2 separate regions of the Homo sapiens genome follow, and region 1 is linked to region 2. Evidence: fine-mapped expression QTL. A gene starts in region 2. The other region holds a variant in brackets. All regions are shown on one strand. Distances are between the middles of the regions.

What was found. PIP is the estimated chance that this variant, and not a neighbour inherited with it, causes the effect. A credible set is the group of variants that fine-mapping cannot tell apart.
Region 1: its variant is the best candidate, but not a certain one, in a credible set for the expression of DGAT1 in whole blood (TOPMed, PIP 0.57).

Annotation. Positions count from the first base shown.
Region 1 is chr8:144,297,682-144,300,581 of GRCh38, reverse strand. The region is part of intron 1 of HSF1 (heat shock transcription factor 1); the gene reads right to left. Among named protein-coding and RNA genes, the nearest start is that of HSF1, 7.5 kb to the right of the region's middle. The variant C/T (reference allele first, on the strand shown) is at 1,365.
Region 2 is chr8:144,325,048-144,327,947 of GRCh38, reverse strand. It overlaps DGAT1 (diacylglycerol O-acyltransferase 1), which reads left to right and starts at 1,096. Exons shown (of 17, transcript NM_012079.6): 1 at 1,096-1,511. The coding sequence starts at 1,312. RefSeq lists silencers at 670-1,389, 1,400-1,469.

The DNA of each region.
Region 1 (2,900 bases), 27 kb after region 2:
ACGTATGTTTTTGGGAGGAAGATCAAAGAGGTAGAGTGCTGTTCTCATCATCCTATCAAGAGTACACAACAGGCCGGGCGCGGTGGCTGACGCGCCCAACACTTTGGGAGGCCAAGGTGGGCGGATCACGAGGTCAGGAGATTGAGACCATCCTGGCTAACACGGTGAAACCCCATCTCTACTAAAAATACAACAAAATTAGCCGGGCGAGGTGGCGGGTGCCTGTAGTCCCAGCTTCGTGGGAGGCTGAGGCAGGAGAATTGCTTGGACCTGGGAGGTGGAGGTTGCAGTGAGCCGAGATTGTGCCACTGCACTCCAGCCTGGCAACAGAGCGAGACTCCGTCTCAAAAAAAAAAAAAAAAAAAAAAAGAGTACACAACAGTGATACGCATGTCACTGCTGATGGTGAGCATGGTCCCTGGTGAGGCTGTGTTGCTGGAGGTCTCCACTGGAAAGCTGCTCCTCCTGCTTCTGTGCTCTGCTCTTTGGAAGAGGGTCACTAGGTAAAGCCCAGGCTTCTGGAGTGAGGAGTTAAGCATCACCTCCTCGAAGGGGAACTATCTCAGTAAACAATGTGGAATTCTTCTACTTGGGAGATTAGTTCCAGTGACATTTTGTCCAACTTGCTTCTTTTCTGTATCTTCCATTTCTCAGTCATGTTTTCTTATTTTTTGAGACGGGGTCTCGCTCTGTCACCCAGGCTGGAGTGCAGTGGCACGATCTTGGCTCACTGCAAGCTCCACCTCCCGGGTCCAAGCAATTCTCCTGCCTCAGCCTCTGGAGGAGCTGGGACTACAGGTGCCCGCCACCACGCCCGGCTAATTTTTTGTATTTTTAGTAGAGACGGGGTTTCACCATGTTAGCCAGGATGGTCTTGATCTCCTGACCTCGTGATCCACCCGCCTCGGCCTCCCAGAGTGCTGGGATTACAGGTGTGAGCCACCACGCCCAGCCCTCAGTCACATTTTTGTGTTATTTCTTTGAGCACAGGGAACATTTTTATAATTGTTTACTGTCTTTGTTGGCTAATCCTATCAAAACTGGGCCTGCTACTGGACCCCCTCCAGTGACAAGTCCATTTTTCTGCTTTGGCTTGTCTGCCCATGACTGATTAGATTCTGGACGTGAATTTTTTTTTTTTTTTTTAGAAGGAGTCTTGCTCTGTTGCCCAGGCTGAAGTGCAGTGATGCGATCTCGGCTCACTGCAACCTCTGCCTCCCGGGCTCATGTGGTTCTCTTGCCTCAGCCTCCCAAGTAGCTGGGACCACAGGCGCCCATCACCACACATGGCTAATTTTTTGTAGTAGAGACGGCGTTTCACCATATTGGCCAGGCTGGTCTTGAACTCCTGACCTCAGATAATC[C/T]GCCTGCTTCGGCCTCCCAAAGTGCTGGGATTACAGGTGTGAGCCACTTCGCCTGGCTTCCTTCTCTCAAGAGTGCTGTGTGTACTCCGTGCTAGCAGGCAGTGGTGTTTCCAGGGCTTGCCTTGCACTTGTTTCCACGGCATTGGAGTGGCCTTTCCTCTGCAGCTTATTCTGCGCCACTTCCAAGCTGTGTTTCCTCTAAGGTGTCATGAAAGCTCCTTGTATTTAAAGTGGCTTCTATACTCTGGCTGGTGGGAACTGAAATAACCACGGCCCTGTGTGAGTCCTGCTCATCTGTCCCCTTACACTTACTCTTCCCCTTCAAGTTGCTCTTGGTCCAGCTCCACGAGGTTTCACTGTGTGCACCAGCAAATCGGATCCAACCCAAGATGCAAGCGGGCTCACGCGCAGATTGCTGGAGCTCTTTGTTTTGGGCGTAACTCCTTCCTTTCTGGTACCACACCCCACACATTCTAGCTGCCTCAGCTGCCCCAAAGTCTGGGTTTGTTGGGTTCTCTGCACGTGAGTCTGCAAATTCCCTCCACATAAAAAGCCTGGACAATTTTGTGGTTTACCTCAGTCCTCGCCGGTTTTTTCTTTTCTTTCTTTTTTTTTTTTTGAGACAGTTTCTCGCTCTGTGGCTGGAGCGCAGCGGCGCAATCTCGGCTCACTGCAACCTCTGTATCCCAGGTTCAAGTGATTCTCCTGCCTCAGCCTCCCGAGTAGCTGGGATTACAGGCACGCACCACCACGCCTGGCTATTTTTTTTTTTTTTGTATTTTTAGTAGAGACGGGGTTTCACCATGTTGGTCAGGCTGGTCTTGAACTGCTGACCTCAGGTGATCCAACCGCCTCAGCCTCCCGAAGTGCTGGGATTACAGCCGTGAGCCACCGTGCCCGGCCCTAGTTTTGTAACGTCTGAACATTTTCAGCGGCTTCTTATGCCTTAAGGGTTAAATCCAAGTTGAACATGTCAGGCAACCCCTACCTTAGGGGCCATTATGAATTTCACAGGGTCTGCTGGTGAACCCATCAGAGAACCCAGTGTCTCTCTCATCTTCCTGCCTCAGTGGAACAAGGTCCCTCCTCTGCTGACCACAGGCACCTCTTGGAGGAGTCACCGGTCATAACTGGATATCACGAAAACCTGCCACTGGAAATGGGAGGCCCCTGGCTGGTGCGAGATGCCACACGCTGAGAAGTGTAGGTGTCAGCAAACCCCGCAGCTTGCAGTAAACTTGGAGCCTGTGGCCTCATTTTCTGCAGCACTGTGAAGGACCTGAAATGTGTGTGAGATCCTGCCTGTAGGGACACCTTACATAGAAAGTGTCTGTGTCTCTGAGTATCTTCTCAAAGGGCTCCCTGGCCCAAAACGTGAACAGTGCCGTATTCTACAAGGTGGCCCCACAGCCCAGGCCACAAGCCTCTTGTTCCAGCCTCCTGCCAAGTCAAAGCTGTATCTGCTGACCGGTGATCTGGGCTCCTGGGCTCGGCTGGCCGGCTGTTCCCTCTCCGGGTCCCGGGAGTATAGGCTTT
Region 2 (2,900 bases):
AATTAGCTGGGCGTGGTGGCACGCGCCTGTAGTCCTGGCTACTCGGGAGGCTGAGGCAGGAGAATCGCTTGAACCCAGGAGGTGGAGGTTGCAGTGAGACGAGATCGCGCTACTGCACTCCAGCCTGGCGACAGAGTGAGACTGTCTCAAAAAAAGAAAAAAGAAAACAAAAAACAACAGGGCGGTTGCACAGGCCGTGCAAATGCACAGAAGCCTCTTGAGTCCCGGCGATCCAGCGGCCCAGACTTCTGACATCCTGGAGAGGCTGGCCCACGTTGGAAACTGGGAGGCCCTGAGAGTTGAGGGACGTGGAGCTCCTTGTGGAGAGAGTGGGTGGGCTGAGAAGACACCACCAAGGGGCCTGCGCCCTCGCCCTCGCCCTCGCCCTCCTCTCGCCGGGCTCTGCAGGCGGGGAGGTGGAGAGCCTGGGAGTCGCGTGCAAGGCAGGCGTCCCGGTGACGCAGGGCCTGGTGCATTTCTCCAGCTTGGTCTTCTGACCTGGCCCTTGTCTGACGTCCCCCTAAGGCGAAGAAAAGCAGGTTCCTGCCGGGGTAACCAGAGGGCTCGCGGAGCAGAAGCGCGCCAGGGACGTTACTGTAAGCTGCGTGCGCAGAAACCAACGCGCTGGGTGGCGGGCGACGCGAGCCGCCGCGGACACCGGCCCGGACAGCTGGACCGTGGCGCACTAGGCGCTTCCTAAATGATTGCCCGGAGTGACTCGCCGAGACCCCGTGTGTACACAAGTGGGACGAGGGGCGGGCGCACAGCGGCCAGGAAGTCGGGGCCCAGCGCACCCCTCAGCGGACCATCCCGCTCCGTGGGGCCGGACAGGACCCCGGGACCACGCGGGAGCGATGCAAGGTCCGTTCCCGCTGCGCGCACTTGCGGCCCGCAGCCCCGGCCCTGGGAGCTGCCACGGCTCCCAGGGTGCTCTGCGCCGGTGCGGCCGCGGCGACTACGACTCCCAGGGTGCTCTGCGCCGGCGCGCCCGCGGCGACTACGACTCCCAGGGTGCCCTGCGCCCCGTCAGCCTCTCCAGGCCCCGCCTCAGGTCGGCCGCGGACTACAAATGGACGAGAGAGGCGGCCGTCCATTAGTTAGCGGCTCCGGAGCAACGCAGCCGTTGTCCTTGAGGCCGACGGGCCCGACGCGGGCGGGTTGAACGCGCTGGTGAGGCGGTCACCCGGGCTACGGCGGCCGGCAGGGGGCAGTGGCGGCCGTTGTCTAGGGCCCGGAGGTGGGGCCGCGCGCCTCGGGCGCTACGAACCCGGCGGGCCCACGCTTGGCTGCGGCCGGGTGCGGGCTGAGGCCATGGGCGACCGCGGCAGCTCCCGGCGCCGGAGGACAGGGTCGCGGCCCTCGAGCCACGGCGGCGGCGGGCCTGCGGCGGCGGAAGAGGAGGTGCGGGACGCCGCTGCGGGCCCCGACGTGGGAGCCGCGGGGGACGCGCCAGCCCCGGCCCCCAACAAGGACGGAGACGCCGGCGTGGGCAGCGGCCACTGGGAGCTGAGGTAGCGGAGCGCCTGACCCCCTAACCTCTGACCCAAGGGCCCCGCGACTTTCCGGGGTTGGCCGAAGCGCGAGCTCCGAGTCCGAGAACATGGGCCCTGGGCTAAGCGGGGATCGGTGTGCCCTATGGGCCCTGTGGGGAAACTGAGGCTTGGGGAGAGTCACCTGACAAGGTCACTGGGTAGGGGCTCTGGAGCTGGCCTTGGCCAGGCAGAGGGGAGCCGGCAGGTGTCCCGCATCCAGATCCTCTTGGGTCTGTGCATCCTCAGGGGCTCCTGAGGAGCTTTTCGAGGGGCGGGCTGGTGGGGGCCCGGCCCTGGACAGTGTCCCCTTATATGGAAGGAGTCAGATAAGATCTGGGCAGTTTGTGGTGATAGGTTCCTTCTTGGTGCTATGAGCGGTGCCTTGCGGGTAGGAAAGGCTCCCAGAGGAGGGCTGGCCTGCCAGGGAGGGGGCCAGAGGAGCCCAGGCCTGTCCGAGGACAGGGGAATCAGCAGCTGCCCCGGACAAGGGGCAGTGTTAGAGGCGTTCTTGTCCTTGCAGACCCTTCTGAGAGTGGCTGCGTGGCCCATTCATTGCTCCAGTGGTTAGGCTGGCCTGGAGCCCTGCCGATGTTGCCAGAGCCAGCGTCTGTTGTAGGGACAGAGAGTTGGGTTCTGTGTTGGGACTTCCATCCTCCAGGTGGGGAGTGGGGTATGGGGGTGGTGGACACACCTGCAGGCGTGTGCCCTGCTCAGCTGGATGACTGACAGAGAGGGGTGGAGGGAGAGAACCATGGCCGATGGGAAGGACTTGGCCAGCCTGGGCATTGGCTTCCTCCACCAAGCTGGCCTTGAGCAATCCCCTTGCCACCCTCCATCCCCCCTTTATGGCCTTTACCCTGGCCCAGGGGCCCTCAGGGCTTTGTTTTAGAGAGCAGCTGAGGGCCTAGAGGTTATCAAGGCAGAAGTGGGCTGATTTTGGACATGTAGTTGGCAATGATTTGCTCTCTCAGTGAGCAAGAACAGAGCTTTCCTTCACGGGGCACCATGGGGAGGGGGTTGGGGGAGGGCAGGCACTGTCGTGGCCCTCAGGGTGCTCAGTTCATCTGGGAGATAAGATAACCTCAGCGAGAGTCAGGCATGGAGCAACATGGACAAAGGTCGGGCACGGAGGCCTTGAAGGGGCCGTGGGGAGGAGGGTGGCCCTCCTGAGAGGGGTGCTTGCCTGCTGTGGGCCTGGGGTGCTGGTGAGGGAGGCTGGCCTAGGCACCTCCTACCTGAAAAGGAGGTGTGGCTCCTGGAGTTACCCTCTCTCCAGGAGGCAGGGGGATGGCTACATGACCTGTGGAGGACGTGGGAATTGAGATTTCTTTTTTTTTCTTTTCTTTTTTTTTGAGACTAGTTTTGCTC